Homo sapiens: one gene and its partners. The protein of the gene in region 4 purifies or fractionates together with the protein of the main gene of each other region. This does not show direct contact. Each region holds a gene or a part of one and is shown on either strand. Other genes may lie near its edges. The genes, in order: LRRTM4, SCARB2, PLXDC2, ODR4, OSTM1, EVA1C and CLCC1.

Evidence for each region.
Region 1: the proteins of ODR4 (region 4) and LRRTM4 purify together in Homo sapiens (co-immunoprecipitation; one large-scale study listed by IntAct). This does not show direct contact.
Region 2: the proteins of ODR4 (region 4) and SCARB2 purify together in Homo sapiens (co-immunoprecipitation; one large-scale study listed by IntAct). This does not show direct contact.
Region 3: the proteins of ODR4 (region 4) and PLXDC2 purify together in Homo sapiens (co-immunoprecipitation; one large-scale study listed by IntAct). This does not show direct contact.
Region 5: the proteins of ODR4 (region 4) and OSTM1 purify together in Homo sapiens (co-immunoprecipitation; one large-scale study listed by IntAct). This does not show direct contact.
Region 6: the proteins of ODR4 (region 4) and EVA1C purify together in Homo sapiens (co-immunoprecipitation; one large-scale study listed by IntAct). This does not show direct contact.
Region 7: the proteins of ODR4 (region 4) and CLCC1 purify together in Homo sapiens (co-immunoprecipitation; one large-scale study listed by IntAct). This does not show direct contact.

What each region holds. Positions count from the first base shown.
Region 1 is NC_000002.12:77,519,577-77,523,643, forward strand, and holds the start of LRRTM4 (leucine-rich repeat transmembrane neuronal protein 4 isoform a precursor), read right to left. Parts: upstream 2,801-4,067; 5' UTR 2,540-2,800; coding exon of another isoform or gene 2,533-2,539; intron 2,243-2,532; 5' UTR 2,096-2,242; coding exon 2,092-2,095; intron 289-2,091; coding exon 1-288. UniProt on the Homo sapiens protein: May play a role in the development and maintenance of the vertebrate nervous system. Exhibits strong synaptogenic activity, restricted to excitatory presynaptic differentiation.
Region 2 is NC_000004.12:76,172,325-76,175,824, forward strand, and holds part of SCARB2 (lysosome membrane protein 2), read right to left. Parts: coding exon 3,467-3,500; intron 1,990-3,466; coding exon 1,820-1,989; intron 1-1,819.
Region 3 is NC_000010.11:20,211,432-20,214,931, reverse strand, and holds part of PLXDC2 (plexin domain-containing protein 2 isoform 1 precursor), read right to left. Parts: intron 3,264-3,500; coding exon 3,203-3,263; intron 1-3,202. UniProt on the Homo sapiens protein: May play a role in tumor angiogenesis.
Region 4 is NC_000001.11:186,396,338-186,399,837, reverse strand, and holds part of ODR4 (protein odr-4 homolog), read right to left. Parts: intron 1,540-3,500; coding exon of another isoform or gene 1,526-1,539; coding exon 1,397-1,525; intron 885-1,396; coding exon 794-884; intron 1-793. UniProt on the Homo sapiens protein: May play a role in the trafficking of a subset of G-protein coupled receptors.
Region 5 is NC_000006.12:108,040,909-108,043,741, forward strand, and holds the end of OSTM1 (osteopetrosis-associated transmembrane protein 1 precursor), read right to left. Parts: 3' UTR 501-2,833; downstream 1-500. UniProt on the Homo sapiens protein: Required for osteoclast and melanocyte maturation and function.
Region 6 is NC_000021.9:32,454,206-32,457,705, reverse strand, and holds part of EVA1C (protein eva-1 homolog C isoform 1 precursor), read right to left. Parts: exon of another isoform or gene 117-3,500; intron 110-116; coding exon 1-109. UniProt on the Homo sapiens protein: Binds heparin.
Region 7 is NC_000001.11:108,935,985-108,939,484, forward strand, and holds part of CLCC1 (chloride channel CLIC-like protein 1 isoform 1 precursor), read right to left. Parts: intron 2,325-3,500; exon of another isoform or gene 2,182-2,324; intron 1,435-2,181; coding exon 1,093-1,434; intron 1-1,092. UniProt on the Homo sapiens protein: Anion-selective channel with Ca(2+)-dependent and voltage-independent gating. Permeable to small monovalent anions with selectivity for bromide > chloride > nitrate > fluoride.

The DNA of each region.
Region 1 (4,067 bases), on a different chromosome or scaffold from region 4:
TAATGTAATTATGGTCAAGATAAAGCCATATAAGCTGGTTAAGGCCGGCAAACTGATTGGATTTGAGCTTCTGAATGCTGTTGAACCTTAATGATAAGCCTTGTGACCCTCCAGAAATGTTCTCAGGGATATCTGCGAAAGCATGAGACTCACAGTACACAATTTTGCCATCACATCTGCAGTTCTTTGGGCAAGCTCTCTGAGCACCCGTGAGCATAACAAGCAGCAGTGTAGGAAGTAGCACCAGCACCACACTCATGCCTTTCAGCTGCGTAATTAAATGGAAACCTACGATATTAAAAAAAAGACAGATGCACATTGTGAAGCTATTAAAATAAATCACCGTCGGTTTACCAACAACAGGGGCATTTCCTCTAGTGTAGGAATGGGACAGTTGATTTAAGGAAAATGCATTAACATTTCGAGCATTATTTTCTTCAGTGTTGCATGTTTGCTGCTTAGGTTTCACTTTTTCTTCCTTGATCTTCAAATCACCACAGTCCCATAGAATTAAGAAAAGCCTTTTTGAGTTTCAGGAGTTCCTACTTATTTCAACATTGAAAAGCACAGAGCCTTTCTCACCACTGAATGCTGACATTTTAGTAACAATAATATTTGGCTAACCACTGTATTGAACAACAGTACCAAAAGGAAGTGTACTATGTGCTCTGGTAAGGGCAAAAATGTGACTTAGTAAACCTGGTACCTGTACGTGTTTCCCAGTTGAGCAAACAGGCTGTGATTTGGCAAAAGAGCTTCAGTAAGCTGTCAAGGTAACCCAAGTTTGCCCTGCCTGAAATTGTGTACTTATTGCATAATAGGATCGCAATATGTGAGCTCTGAAAAAACAGCATTGAGACTAGTATAGGCAGCCAATGAAGCATTGGATGAAGACTAATAACGGTACGAGGTGCTCTCAAGTTGTTAATAAGCATAGATTATTGCATACTGTGGCTCCCTGCCCAACGATACAGGAGCTAAGACATCTAAATACTCATAACAGAGAACACTCCAAAGTTAAGACTATCAAAATTCGTATTATTTGCCTAAAAAGCAAAATAATATTGTGTAGTATCACTTTGCCATTATTTTAGAGTTGTTTTTGCAAATTCGAAGGATAAACAAGGAAAGAAGCAGCCAACTACTATTTTTCTCTACATCACCCTGATCTCTTCACATTTCTCACTGACTTTTTTCTCCCCTATCTCCATTAACTTCAGAAAGCCTGCAAAGTTACAATCTATTGGCACTTACACTGCATTTCCAAGTCATTGCATGTTAAGGGACTTCTTTCCTCCGTCAACAGTAGATTTATTATTTCTTAATGGAGAGAAAAAAAAAGAAACAACTACCATGTGTTGCAGTTTCTTTTTTTTTCTTAAATTTTTAAATTTTTAACCAAGAGGCAATCAACCAAATCCCTAATCTAAAACCCATCCTTCTTCTCAAACAGTTAAGTTTTTCTTTTTTTTCTTTTTAATTTAAAACCCGATCTTGCTCTCTGTCCTCTTGCCAGCTACAGACTCATTGAAATACATTCCAGCTCTCCCAGACAGGAGAAAGGGGGGGAAAAAAGCCAGTCACACTCGAAAAAATAAGACTGGCAAATGACTGCTGGAAATTCGGAAGCTGTGTTCAGGATCCAGCTTCAAAGATAAAACAAGCCCTTGTGCAACCTCTGATAAAGTAAGGACCCCACCCCTACATACACGCAGCAAAGTGTTAATAGTCATCCTGACAGCTACCAGAAACACAAGCCTCGTTAATATTATCAAGAAATAGAAGCAAACACAGTATTTATCTCCTTCTGAATTCCCAAGCTGTGGATACGCAGACAGTAGAAACAGTCTTAAAGATATTTCTCTAGAGTCTGTTTAAGTTCGTGTTGTGCATTTATAGATTAAAAAAAAAACACTGCAAAAAGGAAAATGATCTAAAAATATAATAGCAACTATAGTGAATCAACTGGCAAACTCAAAGGCTGCTGCTCTTTGCCTGTTTCCCCGTCTTTTATCTGCTAATGCCACGACTGAGGATAGGAAGCCAAGAGGATCAGCTTTGCTCAGAAGGAAACAACAAAAGTTCACTTACCCATCCTTTGTCATCCAAAAACGTTTCCCCCCTCTCTCAGCTTTCTTCTTATTTGGTCTCTTGTGCGGAAACCACCACCACCTTCATGACACAGTGCGGCTGTCATTCACACCATTCTGATCCCGCATGTGAGCTAGTAGCCCCATACAAACTTCCCCGAGAGGACAGGCAAAAAAAAAAAAAAAAAATACATATATATATATACATATATATATATATATAAAAAATCAGCACAGGGTGGGATGGTTGTGGGGGCAGGGAAAAGGAAGCCGTTGGGGGGATAGGGATGGGGGAGGGCCTCTAGGCTCTGAGGACCATTGTGTAATTCACCAGAGACCCATCAGCAGTAATTGGCAATCTGTGCAAAAGAGCTACAGCCCATCTCGGAGGTAACCAACTTCTCTGTAAAAAGAGAGGAAAAAAAGAAAATCTTCAGAATACCTGGCATTCCTTATTGTGCTGGCTTTTGCCATTCCCAGATAAAGCAATTCATCCTCTGGATTTTCAGTTCTTGAAGCAAGTAGGCCTCCTGTGCTGTATGAGACCCCAGTTTAAAAGCTATGCAGGCTAGGTTTATCCATTTAGCTGGTCAGGTTTAAAGTGTTTTGTAGCTGTGCTGGGAGGCAGCCCTTGTCTAATTCAGAAGGCTTTCCAGAGACTGATGATGCTCAGAGCTTGTTGGTGCTAATGCTTGAGTTTGTGATACACTGAGTGCCCTCCGCTGGAGAAAACAGATTGCACATTAAAGACGGGAACAAGTGAGCCTGTCAGTGGTGTGCAGCCTTCCCTTGCTCAGAAAGGGAAATTAAAGGCACAGAATCACTATTTTTTTCTCTCCAATAATTTAAAAGGTTTATGCCAAGGAGTTCCTTTCAGTTATAGCAAATATTAAGTAAAATACTGCTTCTCTAAATGTTATGCAATTAATAGTTTTTCAAAGTTGCCATGACCTGAAATTTGTTTTTTCTGCACGTCACTGGAGATTTATCATCTTTTGCAAATGACAGAAATTGTTGAAATTTAAGTTTTATTCACTGTTGCTGTTGGTTTGTTTTATTTATTTATATTGTTTTAAACTAACCGCTTATGGAAGAAATCTTATTCAAGGGAAAAATGCAATTTTAATCAATTTTAAACAGGTTACATTTAACATGTTTAAGTCTGATTTTCAAATTCTCAACCTTTGACATAAAATGCATTTTACAATTTTGTGCATTTTATTGAACAGTCTAGAACACTACTTTCTAAAAGTTTACATTTTTAGTCTTAAAGCAGTTATAATCTATAGTATATTACCAAATGTGAAGGTAACTAAGAGATAAGAGTAGAATTCTAGCTTGACATTCTTAGTGCAGCCATTATCCTTAAATCATCTACATTTAGAATGCAAATCATTTCTTATGCAAATCACTTATTGTAATGTGCAATTCCAGAAAAACAAAAGCACTTGAGTTCTGCATTATCATGGTATTACTCTAAAATGTGCAGAATATCCTCAGAATTAGAAGGGATGACATGATAAAACACCTGATATATATATAATTTAAAAGGACCTACACACTTTCTTTAAGCTTGGACAGACGTTGAAAAACATAGTGCATCACCTCCATTTTTTCCTCATTTTTACTAGTTTATTCCATAATCCTCTGGCAGATAACAATTTTTAGAATAATCCAGGAGAATGAATCAATGTAATGCAGGGAGAGACTGCTAGGTAAGACTGCTAACCTAATTTAGCAGACGTGAGAAATTTAAATGAATTTCACATAAGCATTTAGAATTGCTGTGGATCATCGCAAATAGATATTTTTAGAAAGAGCCTTGGTTTTAGATTGTTTGCCAAAATATTAATAATTAAGGGGGCTTATCATATAAATAACACATATAATTTGACTCAGATGTATGAGTAGGCAGTTGCAGGCAATTGTCTCATTACTAAGATTTCTTGAGGAACAGAAAGGAATAATATGTCCCCC
Region 2 (3,500 bases), on a different chromosome or scaffold from region 4:
GTTGCAATCATAGCTCACTGCAGCCTTGAATTCCTACGCTCCAGCCTCAGCCTCCTGGGTATCTGGAACTATAGGTGTATGCTACTATGCCCAGCTAATTTTTAAATTTTTTGTTCAGATGGGGTCTCCCTGTTGCCCATGCAGGTCTAAATTCTTGGCCTCAAGTGAGCCTCCTGCTTCAGCCTCCTAAAGTGTTAGGATTACAGGCATGATCCACCATGCCTCACCAATATATTTTTAATAACTCTCCAGATAATTCTGATGTAAAGCCAGGTGTGGGGGTCACTGCCCTGTCAGACAAGGATCAGGAGGTATACTGCTGACTTCAGACTTATTCCAAAATGATATCTTATTCTTTTTTTTTTTTTCTTTTTTAAAAGATGGAGTCTCGCTATGTTGCCCAGGCTAGAATCAAACTGGGCTCAAACGACCCTTCCACCATAGCCTCCTGAGTAGCTGGGTCTACAGGCACACGCCACCATGCCAGGCCTGAAAGGAGATTTTAAAATGAGATAGATAAGGGAGCAAAAGTGAGCACATTACTATTCAGGAGAAAGGGACTACACAGAGAGCTCTCCAGAGAAATTTTAAAGAGGAATTACAGCCCAAGAGGGAATCACAGGGCAAATATGAGAAGACCCTGAGTTCCGCCAGGGATCTGCTCAGAGGGAGGAGTCGCATCAAAATCACGTTCCCTCTCTGAGCCCTAGTTTCCCCAATTATAAAAACAGGCCGCTGAATGTCTACTATCTAGTAAGTTCATTGTGAATAATTCTGCAACATGTGGCTGTTAAAACTACTCTTCAAGATGAAGAAAATAGTTTTGTCAGTTGTGCCACTGATAATTCTGCCTCATTCATGGAAAGGAGCAGAGTAGCTCTGACATTAAGAAACACTGGGACATTTGTGTCAGGGTTTAAAACTAACTCTGCTTCAAAATCACTGAGAATCTTTGCCATGATACGTACTTTCTTAAAACTGAGTTGTCCACTTTTTCTTTTAGCTTTTTTTTTTTTTTGGTGGGGAGGTGCGGAATCACTCTATTGCCCAGGCTGGAGTGCAGCAGCACAATCATAGCACAGTGCAACCTCGAACTCCTGGGTTCAAGCAATCTCTCTGCCTCAGCCTCCTGAGCAGCTGTAACTACAGGTGTGTGCCGCCACACCCAGCTAATTTTTTAATTTTTTTTTTTTTGTAGAGACAGGGTCTTGCTATGTTGCCCAGGCTGATCTTGAACCCCTGGCCTCAAGCAATCCTCACATCTCGGCCTCTCAAAGTGCTGGGAATACAAGCATGAGCCACCGTGCCCAGCCTTAGCATTGTTTTGAACATGAAATCAGTTAATGTTTTGCATGCATTAACTACATGTAAATATGTAAAGCACTTAGGACAGTGACTGGCATACATCAGGTGCTTAGTAAACATGAGCTATTATTACTGTTAAGACTTCTAAACCACTGTCCAGAAAAAAAAACACAACATGGCATTCTAGAAATAAAAAGCATCACAGAAAAGCCATGATTTTTTTTTACCATTCAATAGCCATGTTATGAAACATTGTTCTTGAAAGAAACTGATCTTTCTATTGGGCTGACAATATATTCTTTTTTGTTTGTTTTGTTTTTTAGAGACAGTGGTCTCGCCATGTTGCCCAGGATGGACTTGAGAACTCCTGGGCTCAAGTGATCATCCCACCTCAGCATCCTTAGTAGCTGGGACTGTAGGTGTGCGCCACTACGCCCAGCTACATATTCTTTGTTGAACTCCAATCCTTCTGCATTCTTGACACCCCTATCATGTCCCCTCTCTGAGTTCTTACCATTCTTGCAGATGCTGACATTCAGAACTCCTGAGCCCAGGCAGTTTCCCTCAGGTATACAGAAGCCGGCATTGTCTGACGTATTGGCTAATATTTCTGCAGGAACTTTATACCGAAAGGCAGGCAGTCCCTGTACACTCTCATAGTCACTGAAAGTAATATACACTGACCTGTTAGGATGTAAGAATAAAAAGTGAATGTGGACTCTGGTCAGTGTAATCTGCCCGAAATCCGCAAGTTAGCAACAGTTCTCAGGTACAACATGGCCAAAAGCTCACAGGGTAAGTAGAAAGGAATGTTTGGAAGGCATTCTGTCAACTCAACGTGTAATAAAGCAGAAGATGAATTGTAGTGGAAGGTGTTTATTGTAGCAACGGTGATATCATCCAAACAAGAAAAAACAATATGTGGTACAAAATTAAGATGATAACATTTAGAATGGAGACTCACATAAAAAAGAAATAAGAGGCCTCTCTAGACCTGCATGGACATATGCCAGTGTGGACGGGCCACCGGCAAAGCCAGGGAAGCCAGGGCACGGCAGAGCCAAAGCTAAGGTAGAACAGGCAGCGATGGCCGTGGCCTCGTAGGGTCTTAGGCACTTGAAAAGTGTCACATTGGACAGATACTTTATTGGAATACACACTTTGATACTCAATCCCCCCCTCCAAGAAAAATCAGATTCCATATTTTGCCCCAGTCATTTATTTAAATGGAGTTCAACGTAATTCTGCCTTTCATTCTTACTGATTTCAAACATAGTCCCATGTAATATGACCACTGCTTACACTGCATAGTGCCTAACCACTTTGATGTACACAGTCACCACTGAGCCTTCAGCCCTTCCTTTGAAGGCTGGCCGGAAGAGCCTTCTGGGCCTCACTTTTTCATCTCTGAACCAGAGCTGTTGATACATCTCTCGCAAGGTTGTGAATAACATAGGTGGTTTCACTGCACAAACCAAACCACCCCTACAGCATTTTTTAATGAAAAATTTTAGGCACCAGAAAGAGATAAAATACTCTAACAAATACCTTTGTATCTGCCACTTAGACAAATAAAAATTATATTATGGATATAACTGAACCTGTCTACGTAATGCTCTTGATTCCATTCCTTCTCTGCCTCCCCTGAGGAAACCACTCTGCTGAAATATGGACAACAGTATCTTTTATTTGGCTTCCATGTAGAGACTACCTATTGACTGGAAGTAGACCAGGTCAGTTGATGCTTGACAGAGCATATCATAGTAACTAAGAGCCAACACTTAATATTGGTTACTGTGTGATGGGCCCTGGGCTAAGTATTTGACTAATACTAACTCATTTGTCCTCATAACAACCTCTAACATAGTTAACAATTTCTATCTTTGTTTTACAAATAAGGAAAGTGAGGTACAGAGTGGTTAAGTAATTTGCCCAAGGTCACACAGCTATAAGTGGTAGAGCCAAGATTCAAACCAACAGTCAGAAGTCTGTGCTGTGAACCAGTACACTATACTGTCTCGATGTGCCATCAGCATTTATCACTGATTATGCATAAATATCCATGCATAATAAGTGTGTCTGCATATATTCCTCATGCTTTTGGTGGTCTTGCAGTGAAAGACCTTATTTTTGAAAAAGAACTTATCTTTAAAGCTTTTACCTGCAAAAGTCAGATGGGAAGACATAAAGGACCT
Region 3 (3,500 bases), on a different chromosome or scaffold from region 4:
GTGTCTGCATGTGAATGTCACACACATCTCAAACTCAAGGAGTATAGAATGGAACTTGCCATATATTATTCTCTCTTTGTGTTTCTACTGTCAATGAACAGGACCTAGTATTCCGTAAACAGGATCTAATAATGTTCAGTAAACACCCTACGTTTAAGGTAAAATCCTAGGCTCAGATTGCTTTTGGCAGTAACGGCAGACTAAGGAACTAAATAGCCCTCCTATAACAAAACAAGTAGATTCTGAATAAAACTTGAATTTTAAAGCCTTAGGATTTGCAGGAGGTAAAGAATATCCCAATGGTGCCTTTCCATTGTTTATTCCCCTCCCCACTCAAAAAATAAAACAAAGCAAAAGCTATGTGCTATAAAGACAGTAGGAGCTGTATACATTAAGGGAAGTTAAAAAAGCAGAATTTGCCCTGAGGAAAAAAATCCAAAATCAATATCGCTCTAAAGAGAACAAGCCTTGCAGCAGTAGTAGACAGGGGAGAAAAATCTGAACTTCTCCTCCTCACATTAGGGCAGAGACTTATGGTAGCCTGAAAATCCTGAGGATCCCATCATCAAATCTTCTTTGGGGGAAAACATCACCTATTTAGGTCTTAGAATAGGATCAGACAAATATACACTAAAAAAGAAAAAAAAATAGCTGTCTGAGAAAGAATCAGCAAAAACAATGACCACACTATTTAGATCACCAAAATTTTAGATAATGGGATCATCCAATATGGAATATACAAAAATCATACACGGAATATTTAAAATCATAAAAGATAAAATTGAGAAATGAACGGTTCACATGAAACTATAAAATACTTGGCAGATGTAATAAGTGTCAAATTTAATTTTAGATATGAAAAATGTTTGTTGGAATTTCTACTTCAGTGAGTAGATTACATAGAATATTAAACAAGATGAAGGGAGAGTTAATAAACCGGTAAATACATCTGAAGAAATTGCTCCAAATACAGCACAGAGTAATAAGGAAAGAGATTACATATAATAGAGGTTTAAAAATATGAGGAAAAGATGAAAATGGCAAGCTTTCAAAGAAGTCAGAAGGTGAAAATAAAGAGAGTGGAGAAGTATAGCTGAAGAGTACATTTATCAAGCTTGACACCCAACCAACAGGAAAACACACATTTTTCTTGAACACACATAGACCCTTTGTACAAAATGCCCATGTACTTGTTCATGAAAAATTTCCAATCAACTTTAAAGATCATAACATGTTCTCTGATGATGACTCAATTAGTCTAGAAGTCAATAGTAAAAAAGGTAAATTTTAAAAGCCTCTGTAATTAGGAAATGTGATCTAATTCATAATTTAATGTATTTCCAATAAAATGTTAGTAAGATGTATTGATAGATGGATTACAGATCTCGACAAGGTGAGTTTAATATTTATATGAAGGACAAAAGCCCTAAAATACCCAAACACTTGTGAAGAAGAAAAAGTAAGGAGATTTGTCCTGTATATAGTAAGATTTCTTATAAAACAATAGAAATTAATACAGTGGGACACTGATCTAAGTACTGACAGAGCTTTAGAAGAGGAGAGCCCAGAAAATATACATAAAACAGGTGACTTTGCAAGATATTGCCAAAAGAAAGGATTAGTTAACAAATGGTGCTTGAAATTTGGCTATCCATCAAGAAAAAAAACCCCACGAAACTGAATCTCTACCTTATATAATACATAAAAACCAATTCCAAATGGAATAGATTTTGACGTGTAAGACAAAGCTTTAAAATATTCAGAAAAAAATACACAAAAATAACACCTAGATGGAATTTGGTAGGAAAATTCTTCTAAAAGAAGATGCACAGGCATATAAAACTCATCATAAAAATAAAAGATTCATACATTTGACAGATTAAATTGATAATTAATGTTAGTGAAATAAAATCATAGAGAAAATGAAAAGATAAACCAAATTTGGGAGAAAAAATATACATCTGAATTACATTCTCAATCTTTACATATATGGAGATATTCATTTTCAACATTTTATATTGAGGTAACTGATTATATGAAAGAAATGATTGTCTCAAAACACAACTATGGCTTTGTCAATAGATACTCTTTGGAACTACGTTATTAGATAAGTGAGGTGAGACGGATGAGCACACACTGCTGTCATTCCCTAAATGAAATGCCAAAAGGTTGGTTATAGCTACACTGGCAATACTGCATTTAAAGTTCAAGAATGTTTTTAAAAATGTATTGCTCAAGATCTTTATGAAACATGCCCCCCAAAAATGAATTTTTAAAAAGTCTCTAAGTAACCATTGAACAAATAGTTTTTAAAACAGCATTTTGGCATGGCTTGCTTTGCTAAACTTTTGTAATTGTTAGCAGTTTTAATTCAAAATTGATACCCCAAAACTTAATGAAGGGAGAAGAAGTAAATGCTTTTCTTCATAAACTTTATAGGATATCTTTATATGATCTTGAAATGATAGTATAAATGCGAGTCACTGCAAAGCTTTTAAACGGGTTAAAATTGTTTCTGGTATCCAATTGCTTACACGACTTCACTGCATCCTTGTCTCTATCATGTTTCCCTCAGAGTTAACATTATACCATCTCTCTATGCCAACTAATGTTATACAATTTCTCATTTATTACAGCACATCAATTTGCTGCAGTCTTCCACCCTCCACAATACCACTGGTCTTGCTGTTTGAATTACAAAGAGGAACAATGGTTTCGTACATCCTAGAAAAATAGCAAGCATTTAAGAGAACTCCTCTACAGATTCCAATCCTGGCCCTACTATTCCCTAGCCATTTACCTGACTCTCCAAGAACCCACACTTCACCCCTCCCCACAAGCTCCCCTCACTCCTCCCCTTTCTCTCCTTGGTAATATGGGGGTAGTGACAGTGCAGGCACTGTTCTTCATAGAATGAATATGACAATGAAATGAGATAATACATATAAATAGTTAAGCCCCATGTCTGCATCTATTAGGGGTTGTAGCAAGTTGCTACAATGTAATGAAAATGTTATCTAATTTAACAAAAATAGCCAGCTGTTATCGAACCCCTAATATTTGCAGACATTGGGCTTATAGAAGGATTCTTCTCCTTTCATTAAGTTTTAGGGCATAAATTTTGAATAAAAATTATTAACAGTTAAAACACATGTATATGACAGCTTGGTCCCAGGATTCTGTCACAATAAAGCATGTGTACCTCTTCAGGGCATCCACTGTCCACCCAGTCCTGCCGATGACGATCAAATCCACTGGAACATCTTCAAAGAAGACCACAATGCAGTTCAGAAAAGGAAGGATAGGGTGCAGGGTGGTGGACAGAAATTAAAAGTAAAAGATTAGTAGGTAGTTCATTCTCACATTTTCAGTTTAGCATAACATTAACTCTTCTATAGAACTCGCAACTGGAGAAGCAGGGAAATATTTAGAGGGTTGCTAAATAATCACTCATTCCTTAGGATGTCACTGTTAGGATCGCACATGGCAACCAAATCACT
Region 4 (3,500 bases):
AAGATACTGTAACTCAGCCTTTTTTAAACGTAATGAAGTCTGTTAGAGTAATAGCTGAGAAGCATATAAACTAGTGTAGTTTATATAAATAGTACCTACTAAAGGAGCTATTATATAGTATTTAACACTAATAATATTTTGATTATGGCTAAATTATTTAAAATACTCATAGATATCAACAAAAAATACTAACTTTAAAATGTTAACAAAGTTTACTCATTCTGGCAGGAGAAGTTCACTTGGAATTAATTTTTTTAAAAATCCTCCCTGAAATTCTTAATTGTTGACAAATTTGCTAAATTTGATAGTGTTCTAAAACGTTTTTCTAGAGCCAAGCATGGTGGCTCACACCTGTAATCCCAGCACTTCGGGAAGCCAAAGACAGTGGATCACTTGAGTTCAGGAGTTTGAAACTAGCCTGGGCAACATGGCAAAACCCTGTCTCTAAAAAAACAATACCAAAAATTAGCAAGGCATCATGGCATGTGCCTGCAGGCCCACCTACTAGGGAGGCTGAGGTAGGAGGACTGCTTGAGCCCAAGAGGCTGAGGCTGCAGGTGAGCCATGACTGTGCCACTGCACCCCAGCCTGGGCAACACAGTGAGACTCTGTCTAAAAAAAAAAAAAAAAATCTGAGTAGCAACTGAAAAATTTTCATCCAATAATAAAAGATGATATACTGCTTGAAAATATAGATAGGTAGCTATAAAAGATGACGTATCTGCTATATCTTGATATCTTATTACTATATCAGTTGAAGATACGCAAAAAAGTACTTATTTTATACTCATAACTTTTTTTTCTGGAATTTCATTCAAAAGCAGATCCTCAAATAGCATTTCACAACGATCAGCAACTGTGTTCAATATATCCCTCTTTACTGCCTACAGGGAAAAACACACAAAAAACACAGTAAGAAATAAAATACTTTAGATTTACAATATTTAACTAACAAAAAAAATAATTTGCTTTCCAGTACAATCATGCCCACTAAATAACTGATACATCATTCAATGTTTTATTTCCACTTATTTAGCACACTTATTAACAAATTTATAGTTTAATGATAAATTTATCTAAATAGTTAAAAACAGATAAATGAATAAAATTTCACATCTAAAAAAATAATTGCAGTGTTCCAAATTAGATACTAATATGTATAACAGTGGAACACTTACTAAACTTGTATAGCCATCATTTTTAAAAAGGCACAAAATAGATACTCTACATATGAAAATCTTCACACCAATTATATGGTACATTTGGACTGCACAATAGGCCATTATCAGTTAAAATCGAATTAATAATTACAAAATATAAGATTAAAAAATGGTAAAATTTTAGGTTTTTGTTAATAGTTAACATGGTTCCATATGCTCGTTATTCCTTTTTGTACCTGCACAGCATCTTTAACTTTGGGTTTACTGCTGTGGATATAAGCTCTGCATTTCACAGCACCCTTAAGGTTTACAGAACCGCTACATATCTGGACTGTGGCTGTGGATCTGTGGTCTGAATTCAGGAGCTGAAAGACAAAATCTGTTTAAGTTCTAATAACCAACAATGATTAACTACAGGAAATATTTAAACATTATATTAGCGATTTTATGAAGAGAGAACAAAGTTTTGACTGAGCCAAGCATTTGAAATTATTCTCTGCAAATTATTTAAAGGCCTTCATATTTGTTTTTATAAGTTATATATTATTTTCCAGTCATTTTGAAGATATAATGAAATTAAACACAACTACATCTAAATTTTTCTAACATAACCATCTAAAATGGTTCAATATTCACTCGATATGCTCCTAAAAATATATTATTTGCAAATTATTCACATCAGTACTGTGATGATTAAAAGATATACAAAGAAGATATGATGTACTAGATATAAGTTGTGCAATGCAAAATAAGTTCACAATAACAAATACAAAGTGGGATGTGATAACTATGGTAAAACTACAAGCAATGCACAGACACATATATTTACACACTTTCAACCAAAAACTTTCATAGACTAGTCCCATCCTCTTTAGTCTAAGGAATGCCAGTGCTCTTGTTCGGTTTTCAGGTGTTTCACATATATTTTCAACCCCATCATCTTAATAAGTGCCAAAAACAAGGACAGTATCAAAATAGTTAAAGTACTACAGGTTGAGCATCCCTAATCTAAAAATCCTGAATGCTCCAAAATCCAAAACTTATTGAGCACCAATGTGATGTTCAAAGGAAAAGGTAATTGGAGCATATAAGATTTTAGATTTTTGGCTTAGAGATGCTCAACTGGTATGTATTCTGCAAATATTACAAAATCTAAAAAAAATCCCAAACCCAAAACACTTCTGGTCCTAAGCATTTCAAATAAGGCACACTCAACCTGTAATAGAGGCCTATAATAACAGTGGAAACAAAAAATAATGATTTACAAAAAATAACCAAAAAATGGAAATGGTAAGGAAGTAATTTATGTTCTAAGAACACTTGGAGTATAAGTCATTCAACAACCAAATCAATTCTGAAGAACAAAAGTCAAATCATACAACTTGTGAAAAGTGCTTTGTGCCTATGTGCTTATGCAATCAGGAATAAATGCGGAAAAATAATGAAGAGGAGAATACTGACATGCATAGCTATTGAAAGAGCATTATTGATGTCTAGTGTAATTCAAGCAATGTCTAAGGCAATGTAAATCTTCTAGGTGTTGTTAAACAATTTAAACTTTAAGATGGTCAAGGACTTGTTGACAAAAAATTTGCCACAGACCACACAGCTCCAAAGGTCCTGGGTCCATTCAAAAATGGCTATCATCAAACCAAGCAGCAGTGTGACGATGCTGATACAATGTCTGGAATAAGCTTCCATATGACACATGTAGAGTTCATTGATACATCAATAAGGTGGGGTTGGAGGAGGAGTAACAGGCTTCCCCTATCTACTCCATAACTTTTTATTGTAGACAAAACTACTCTAAAAAGAATGTCCTATTTTACATATTTAACATATAATTTATATATTTTTAACATATAACACATTTATATATTAGTATATGTAAATATATGTGTATGTGTGTATATACATATATCTATCTATCTATCTATCTATCTATCTATCTATCTATAATTATGGCATTGTTATCCAAAACAGACTAGACTATTAAAGACTATACACACACATATTAAAGAAAAGAGGTATTTTTTTGGTTGGTTGGTTAGTTTTATTTTGTTTTGTTTGAGGCAGGGTCTTGTTCTGTCATCCAGCCTAGAGTACAGTGATGCTATCAGAGCTCACTGCAGCCTCAAGCTCCTAGGCTCAATCGATCCTCCCACCTTCGCCTCCCAAGTAGCTGGGACTACAGGCACACACCATCACCCCCAGCTAATTTTTGTATTTTTTTGTAGAGACAGGGTTTCACTTGTTGCTCAGACTCATCTTGAACTCCTAGGCTCAAGCGATCACCCTGCCTAGGCCTCCCAAAGTGCTGGGATTACAGGCATGAGCTAC
Region 5 (2,833 bases), on a different chromosome or scaffold from region 4:
GCCTCAGCCTCCCAAAGTGTTGGGATTACAGGCAGGAGTCACTGCACCCAGCATCATTCATTTTAAAGCTCTGAAATCTTTTGATTGCATTGGGGTACTGAGATGGATTTTTTTTTTTTTTTTTTGAGACAGGGTCTTGTTCTGTCACTCAGGCTGGAGTACAGTGGCACAATCTTGGCTCACTGCAACCTCTGCCTCCTAGACTCAAGCGATCCTCCCACCTCAGCCTCCTGAGTAGCTGGGACTACAGGTACACACCATGATGCTCAGCTAGTTTTTTAATTTCTTGTAGAGACAAGGTCTCACTATATTGCCCAGGCTGGTGTCAAACTCACGGGCTCAAGTGATCCTCCCGCTTCAGCCTCCCAAAGTGCTGGGATTACAGGTACCAGTCACCACACCCAGCAGATTTTAAAAAATACCTGTTTATCACAAGAAAAACATATTTAAAAAATCATCATTGCAAAGCTCCACACTGTAAGAAGCATGGATCAGTCAAATTATCTTTTAAAAGCCCTCTTTAATTCCAAGGAGATAAAGAAAGTTATTTGTCATTAAACATGTTACATGTATGACTAATATTTATTATAGCTAATATAATAGTTTAGAACAAGGAAATTTAGTAGAGTTGTAACATTTTGGTGCTACATGTATAATTCAGCATAAGCCAAAGCCTTTTTAAAATAACCAATACTATCATTTTATGAAATCTTTACAAGATAAGCACAGTAGTACAATATTTAAGCATCTCAAGTCTCCATTTAAGAGTTGACTATCAAAGAATGACTGTTATAAATAAAGAGCTCTATGATGTTCCACTTATTTAGTCTTAATAAGGTAGGGAAATAAGTGACATACTTTTTAGAAGAATCCATGCAGTGGACAGAAAGTCAGATTAGGTAGTCCCTAGGGATCCATCCAGCTCTGGGAATCTATCATCAGATGGCCTCTAAGGTTTCTTCTAGCTCAGAAAATAGAGGTACTTGGAACATAATTTTTTAAATTTTAAATGGTTATATAGGTTAATAGTATTTTTTGCTTTTCAAAATTCATTGCTGGTGATGTCTATTACTTATTTGATGTCATGTCTTTGGCCAGGAATGCAATCCTAATTAGCATTGTTCCAGGAAAACATTTCATTTTATAGGGAGCATATCCCAGAAACATTAGAAAATACTAGTCCCAATATAAGTAACATTTACCAACTAGACTCTGGGCTACACTTTAAAATATCTGATGTTCAGCCAGGTGTGGTGCTTATGCTTGTAATCCCAGCACTTTGGGAGGCTAAGGCAGGAGGATCTCTTGAACTCAGGAGTTCAAGACCAGCTTGGGCAACATAGTGAGACACTGTCTCTACAAAAAAAAAAAAAAAAAAAATTAATTATAAAAAAAAAAGAAAAAATATATCTGATGTTATTTCTATCTCTCAAGTTCAACAATAAATAATCCAAAGTACATTTTTATTTGCAGCAAAATTTAAGACAGACAGTACTTTCTTTTTTCTTTTTTTTTTTTTTTTTTTGAGACAAGGTCTGGCTCTGTCGCCCAGGTTGGAATGCAGTGGTACAATCTTGGCTCATTGCAACCTCCACCTCCCGGGCTCAAGACATCCTCCCATCTCAGCCTCCCAAGTAGCTAGGACTACAGGCACTTACCACCATACCCAGCTAATTTTTGTATTTTTTGCAGAGACAGTGTTTCACTATGTTGTCCAGGCTGGTCTCGAACTCATAAGCTCCAGCGATCTGCTTCAGCCTCCCAAAGTGCTGCAAATACAGGTATGAGACACTGTGTCCAGCTGATGGTACTCATAAAAGTAGGCATCTAAACTCAATACCTGAAAAACAAATGTGATGTTAAATTACATCTGAAATTTTAAAAATGTATTTAAAAATCCAAATAAAGCTTACAATTTCCTTATTTCCTTTATTTTAATGTGTCAAAAAAACACTTAAAGATATTCTTGTAAATACATATAAGCTGTGTGTCAACATTCAGTACTATGCAAATCATTTTTCAATATGACAAAATGAAAAACTTACACACTTTAGGGTAGCGCTTAATACTTATCTTTGAAATCTATTGCTGATGCTAGGTCTAAAGAGCAATGACTCAACCAGAAAAAATAGTAAAGGCTGCCTTTTCCTTTTTAAAGTGCTTATTAGCTTTATATCCAAAAACAATGGTTTTTACAAATACATAATACTGAAAGGTGCTCAAAAAGTCACCACTTACAGAATTGAACATGTCATTTTCTAACTCTGCACATGTAAACTTGTTTTATCTGCATTAATGAAGATTGCTTCAAATGGCTCTCAATCATATGCTTCAAATCAAGACAGTGCTAAGTTCCAGCAGCATAAACAGTGACAGCAGAACAAACCCCAGCACATTTTCAGTGGATCACAGCAGATCAGAGAAAGTGTAACAGCTTTTGAGTATGTTATACATCCAAGAGCCTTATATTTCACTCCACATAAACAGTAAACATAAAAGAAAAAAGAAACACTTTGTCTCCCTATAGAGCATTTTATAGTATAGGAAGGGATTCAAATTCTCTTTTTAACAAAATTCTTGTTTCTATATAGAGGAGATTTTATATTCTTAATGTTTACAACAAAGCCTATTTCCACCAAAAAAGCAAGAAGAAATTAATAAATGAAATCCTGAACTCTAAAAACCTAAGAAATAAAACTGTGAACAATTCTGAAACGGAGTGTTTTTTCTAAAGGCTAATACAAACATACCAAAATAGAATTTCTGAGCACGAACTATGTGATTTCATTTCAATCGTATCACTTTCATCTGATTGAAATAATTTAGAAACAAT
Region 6 (3,500 bases), on a different chromosome or scaffold from region 4:
AGGAGACCAGGAGGTATTTACTGCTTCCTGGACAAAGGTCAGGTCCAAAAACACGGCTATTGACCAGGAGGTGGCAGGCCCGCTGGTTCTGGCATTCGTCCAGCACCTTCTAGAAGGAGAGGGTAGAAAAGGGACAGGCTTGAAAACTGCTCACAGTGACTGCCAGACCCGAACCTGGGCTGCTCTGGGCTCTGCAAAGGGAAGGACGCCTCCCCACCTGGCCAAGCTGTGTCTAAGGCCAAAGAGCATAGACGTGGGTGATTGGGTTAGCTCCCTGTCTCCCTGCTCTTTCTCCTGAAAAGAAACCTGATCCAATAGTGCCAGGCTCCTGGGAAAACTAACCTCTGATCCACCACTACTGGTGCGGCGGCTGCTACTTTCAGCAAAGGCACTGAGTGCCGAGGCTCCAGGGGGTGCAAGCGAGGTCAGAGGACTTTCAGATATTGGGGTGCAGGGTACTTCAGGGTCCCCTTCGAGCGGGGTCCCCTAGCTTTAAGCTGAGAGAGCTGTGACCATCAGGATTCACAGTCCTGGCCTTTCATCCTTAAATAGCCCCACACAGGACACAGGAGAGCTGTGCATCGGGGAGCTCTTGGGGACCCAAACCCTTTCCAGCTTACGAACCATCCACAGGCCAAAAAATAAAAATTACAAAGCTGATTCCCACCCTCATCAAACTCAAGAGGATGGGACCCACTTCTCCCTCGGGGAGCAGTTTTCTTAGTGGAACACTCAGACTTTCTGTTGAGCATTGGCAGTAAAGGCTTTCCTGCAAATCTCAATCTCTCTCTCTCTCCTGATTTTTTCCAGACAGCTCCTTCGTTTTTAAGGCATCTGCTCTGTGGAAGCTCACAGAACACCCTCCTCCAGGTCCTGGGAAGGCTCAGCTTTTTGCTGCTGTTCTCTAGGTCCTCGTTCCCAAATGGAACAAGTCCTGCTTGTGATAAACACAGAGGTCCTGAACTTGGGTCTGGTTAAAACAAAAACAAAAAGGACATCAAGTACAGTTAAAAAAAAAGTTCCCAAGAATCTGCTTATTACTTTAGGTCTGAATTTAGTGCAGACACGTGAGCCTCTCTGAGTCACCATGTTCTCATAGTAGCTCGTGGAATAGCTCCGTGAAGAATGCTGGCCCCGCCAGGTATCCCCCATTCTCTCAGGGGCCCAGCAGATGTGTCTCAATCAGGAAAAAATACCCAAGAAACCCCTCAGACCCCAGAAGGTGCAGCTTTCAGATGACTGCATGTGGCATGGCCAAAGGTCATGGTGAAATGACTTGGCCCACAGATGTCACCGGAGGGCTCCACTGTTACAACCACAGAGCAGACCCCAGGGCAGGGCTATTTCCAAACTATGTCATGAGCTGGAAAATGCAGAGAGGGGGACTTGCTGCTGACAGTCAAGGGATGGATCAGCTGTGGTCTCCTGTGTGGATGTCTCCCCATGTTAAGCAACCTCCCTCTGAGGAAGCACCTTGCCTGTGCTCCGAGTGCAGCTTAAAAGACACAAAAGAAGGCTGGGCGCGGTGGCTCACACCTGTAATCCCAGCATTTTGGGGGGCCGAAGCGGGCAGATCACCTGAGGTCAGGAGTTCAAGACCAGCCTGACTAACACAGTGAAACCCTGTCTCTACTAAAAGTACAAAAATTAGCAGGCGTGGTGGTGGGCACCTGTGATCCCAGCTACTCGGGAGGCTGAGGCAGGAGAATTGCTTGAACCTGGGAGGCAGAGGTTGTGGTAAGCCGAGATTGCGCCATTGCACTCCAGCCTGGGCAACAAGAGTGAAACTCCGTCTCAAACAAACAAACAAAAAAGACACAAAAGTAAAGGACTTCTTGACCTCTGGTTGAAAGAGTAGCGCATGGGGATGTTTCTGGCAAACAAACCCTCCCAACAACGTCAGAACTGTGTTCACAAATGCTAACCTGTCGGCCTGGTTATAGAACATCCTCTTCCCTCAGGGGTATCTGGCAGAGGCAGGTACCCGTGGAATGGTGCAGGTGGTGCCCATGCTCTAGTGTATGCCAAGAGTTCCTACTTTTACAAAGTAGCCACTTTAAAAAAATGTTGGTACTGGCCAACATTCCTTTCATGCACCCAGGAGGGCAGCAGGTAGCCTGGGATCCAAGGATGGATGGCCAGGGCAGGTGGCTGAGAAATGGGGGTGGGTCAAGAGGGATGTAGCTCCTGGGGTGGCGCCCAACAGAGAGAGTTAGGGGTAGGGTGGGTGCTATGGCTGGAATGTTTATCCCCCCCAAAACTCACATTGAAATGTAATTGCTGCTTTAACAGTAACAGTGTTAACAGGTGGAGTCTTTAAGAGGTGATTAGACCATCAGGTCTTCACCCTTATGAATGGATTAATACTGTTTTTGTTTGTTTGTTTGTTTTTTGTTTTTTTTCAGGAGTAGGTTGTTAGAGTGGCACTAGGCTTGTTATAAAAGGCAAGTTGGCCCTCTCTCCTTCTCTTGCCCCTTCCATTCTTCTGCCACATGAGTACCAGCGTTCTCCAACCCCCTAGAGGATGTAGTGTTCAAGGAGCCATCCTGGAAGTAGAGACACCAAACCTATGGCGCCTTGCTCTTGGACTTCCTGACCTTCAGAACAGTGAGAAATCAATCTCAGGTCCTTATGAATTACCCAGGCTCAGGTACACTGTTATAGCAGCACAAAAAGGACTAAGACAGTGGAGCACACAGGGAAAGCAACTTCTTGTCTCCTGAAGAAACATGTTGTCTCTCCTCAAGGTATAGAAACCATGTCATGGGGAGTCATTCAGACACATTCATTTTGGCTACTCAATTGGTGTGTTTCACCAATCACCTAAATACCCAGATACTACCATGCTTGGAGTGGAAGCAAGGGATGGTGTGAGAAATAGAAAAATTCTTACATCATCACATTAGTTTGCGTCTCCTGTTTGGGCCTTAGGGAGAGCTACACAGCATTAAAGCTACTCTTATTTCTCCTTAGTTCTAGCAAATGTATCTTTATCCATATTTCCTACGGTCGACAAAATCAAACAGACTTCCAACTTTCCACCTGCTCTAAACTCCCTGCTTTAAATGTATTCATATGGAACTTGGGAGGCATAAAAAAAAAAATCCAAGGCCAAGTGACTCAGTAATCCTGGTCAACTAGTTATATATGTTAGGGGCCAGGGATGGTGAAGTAGAAGTTGCTCAGATGATTGAAAGCCATGCACAGTCTAAAACCATCATTGAAATATTAGTTTGACCTTCTCCTATACCAAATCTTTCCCTAAATATGCCAACCACAAAAAGAATGACTTAAACCACACCTCTCCCAATTCCTGGTACTATGTAGTAGAAGGAAGGAGTCAGTAAAGGCTGCCTAAAATAGCTCCAAGCAAGAATGACATGATTATCTACAACTGAAGAAGCAAATCATTAAAAAGCACAAGGCAGTTACTGATATTACTGATATTTCCTTCCTTGAATACATTTTCTTTTTTTTGAGATGGAGTCTCGCTCTGTTGC
Region 7 (3,500 bases), about 77 Mb from region 4:
CTGGCTTTCCCCTCAAGTGAGATAGGAAGTCACTGGAAGACTTCTGAGATAGGTGACAGGTAATTACTAACTATAAAAGCTGGAAGGACCATCTTAAGTTGTTTTTTTTTTTTTTTTTTTTTTTTTGAGACGACGTCTCACTCTGTCACCCAGGCTGGAGTGCAATGGCACGATCTCGGCTCACTGCAACCTCCGCCCCCTGGAATCAAGCAATTCTCCTGTCTCAGCCTCCCAAGTAGCTGGGATTACAGGTGCATACCACATCACGCCTGGCTAATTTTCTTGTATTTTCAGTAGAGATGGGGCTTTGCCACGTTGGCCAGGCTGGTCTTGAACTGCAGACCTCCAGTGATCCGCCTGCCTCGGCCTCCCAGTGCTGGGATCACAGGCGTGAGCCGCCGCGCCTGGTCCATCTTTCTAGATACATGTAGATATGTTTATTTTTATATGAAACTATGGGAAGGGATTCTATAATTTCCCAGATTCTATTATGCTCATAACTGTTTCAAAGGTTTAACAGCTGCAATTTAAACATTTCAAATGACAATACAAATTCCTCTCTCAAACAGAAATGGAAATGTCCCTTTAAAAGACTGATAATGGTGAAAAACTTCTTCTTACCATTCTACAGGTAAAAAGTATAGTCTAGCCAGCCAATGACACTGAAGATTTGGGGAAGCAATGTTTTTGATCCCTGGCCCCAGCCCACTCTTCCATCCAGCTAATCCTTTAGGGCTCTACTGTACCTTCCCTAGAGCTCCGGGCCTTCAGTGATGCCTTCTCTCTGATCTCTTCAAAGATAGAAATTTCTGTCATGCTCATACGCTGGCTTCCCATGAAGGTTCATATGAATTACCATCTGCTCTAACAAACTACTGTTAAATTGTATTTTACATAAAAGTTAAATCTAATTTTATTTCTTCTGAGGAAGCTGAACTAACTTTTGACCAGAAAGGGGAGAGAGTGAGTGGCTGTATCACTCATGATATAATTAAGGGTGAGGGGTAAAAGAGTAAAAACAATCAGACCTCTTCCAGAAGGATTTAGAACCAGTAATGAAGGGACAGCAGAATAAAAGAGTTGCTGACTTACACTGGGTACCACCGTGGGATGCTCTCGTGCCTCTGCGTCTGGTACATCAAATGCCCGGAGCACTTCAGGGCTCTTGTTGCCAGTCTGAAATCTCAAGTCAACATCTCTCTCTCTCAAAATCTCTCTTCTACCCTCATACGTTTTGGCATAAGGGCCTTGCTCAGTGGGGCCCATTTGGCCCCTATAATGGAAATCGGCATCACCTGCTCCACCATCAGGTCTATAATCAATTTCCTCCTGCCGTCTTCTATCCCGTGGCCGAAGTGCCTGGGGAGGTTCGCTCTCAGGACCGCCTATATGTCTCAGCACATGAACTGATTTTCCAGCACCATAGCAGAAACTCTGTAAGGAAAAGAAATACATTTTCCTGAGGACTCAATGGCTAACTTACAAAAGTTATGAGGCATTTTATTCAGAGTGCTAACAAAGTTATGTAATTTAACTTACTTGTGGCATTTATAGACATAAACATGTTAATTTGACTTTTTTTCATTAGAGACCTCTTTAGATTAATACAAGGCCAGAGTGGCCAATAAAACTTAATAAATCTTTCAGTAGACATTTTAATCAGCTAGACACATTTCGATTGAACTATAACAATGGCAGGCTGAAGCCTAGATATTTAAATTAGAAGGTTCTAGTCTGATAATTATTCATGTTTCTAGATTCATGCCCATCATATAAGGTAAATGCTGAAAATATTTAAAGTTGTATATCATTATGTAAACAATCTTCTGTACATTTTCTTTTTACAAATATAAACTAGGCTTAAGTTACAGCTAAAATTCAACAGGTTTTGATTCACATTCCATGGGAAAAAGTAGGCAGCAGTTCCTTACAGTGTGGCCCAGGGACCCCCGGGGGATACCTGAGACTTTCAGGAGATCTATGAGATCAAAACTTTTCATAATACAAAGACATTATTATTTGTCTTTTTCACTGTCCCCTCCTGAATATACAACGGAGCATTCCAGATGCTAGAGTGACAGCCTCACTCAGACTCAGGGGATGCATGCTTGCGTGTACAGTACTCGTATGTTTTAAATTTGTTTTAACTCCTAATATGTAAGTATCAATAAATATAATCACCTTAAGTAAGAGCTGTTTGTGGGCTTCAATTTTTAAGACTGCAAAGAGGTCCTGAGAACAGAAACTTTGAAAATTTCTGTACTAGTTTTTCAAACACTACTATTTGAAGACAAAAGCAGCAAAAGTCAAAGAGCATAACTTTCCTGAGGGAGCACATGAAACAAAAACAGATGGTGAAGACTCTGCTGATAATTTCAGTTTCAGAGACTAAACTATGACTATAGAACTAATGTCACCTAACAAAAAAATACCCGTCAACCACATAATCCTGTAATCACAAGCCAAAAAACAAAACCAAAAAAGAAACGATTTCAAAGTGAACAGAGATAGTGAATCTTGTATCCTTAGGGAAGAGAATTTCCCTTGGCACATCTGAGTTCTTTTTGTTTTATGCGACAACTGCTTTACTTGGGTAATAGCTAAAAAATCGATAACAAAAAACACTGAATAGACCATGGAGGGATGACGAGTAATATTTCTTCTTAATGTCTGCTCCTGGATCCCCAAACTCTTTCTCAGCATACCCATGTTCTTCCACATCCCTTTCTGGTTCTGTGTCAAACTCAATGCTCTACCCTTCTCACTGCTGCAAAAACTGACTAGAAATAAGAAGTCCCCCTTTCTGGGAGACAGAAATCAACTTCCTATTTCCTGTGTATTAATTTACCAAGGTTAACACATTTAAAAAGAGGTTATTATTCTAAATCACTGCTATGACATATGCAATCAAACTAGAGAACTACTTTCTTGATTATAAAAATATACAAGTAAGTATAATATGTCTGTATCATTTAGAGGGGCAGAGGGGAGGAAAAAAATCTGTATCACTTAAAAATCGCCTTCTCATTAAGCGTGACTTAGCCTGATTTACAACATCAAAGAAGCCCAATAATTTTAGCATTGCCTTTTTTTCTGTAAATCTTGCTAAATATTGACAGTGCTAATATTTAATACTAACCAGTATTACTAATATTAATACTAAGATTTAATATAAATCTTGCTAAATACTGACAGTGCATATATATATATAAATATAAATATATAATATATAAATATATATTATATATAATAAATATATAAATATAGACAGATATATAAATATAAATATATATAGATAGATATATAAATATACATATATGTATAATTTTTTTTTTTTTTTGAGACGGAATCTTGCTCTGTCGCCCAGGCTGGAGTACAGTGGTGCGATCTCGGCTCACTGCAAGCTCCGCCTCCCAGGTTCACCCCGTTCTCCTGCCTCAGCCTCCCGAGTAGCTGGGACTACAGGCGCCCGCCACCACGCCCGGCTAATTTTTTGTATT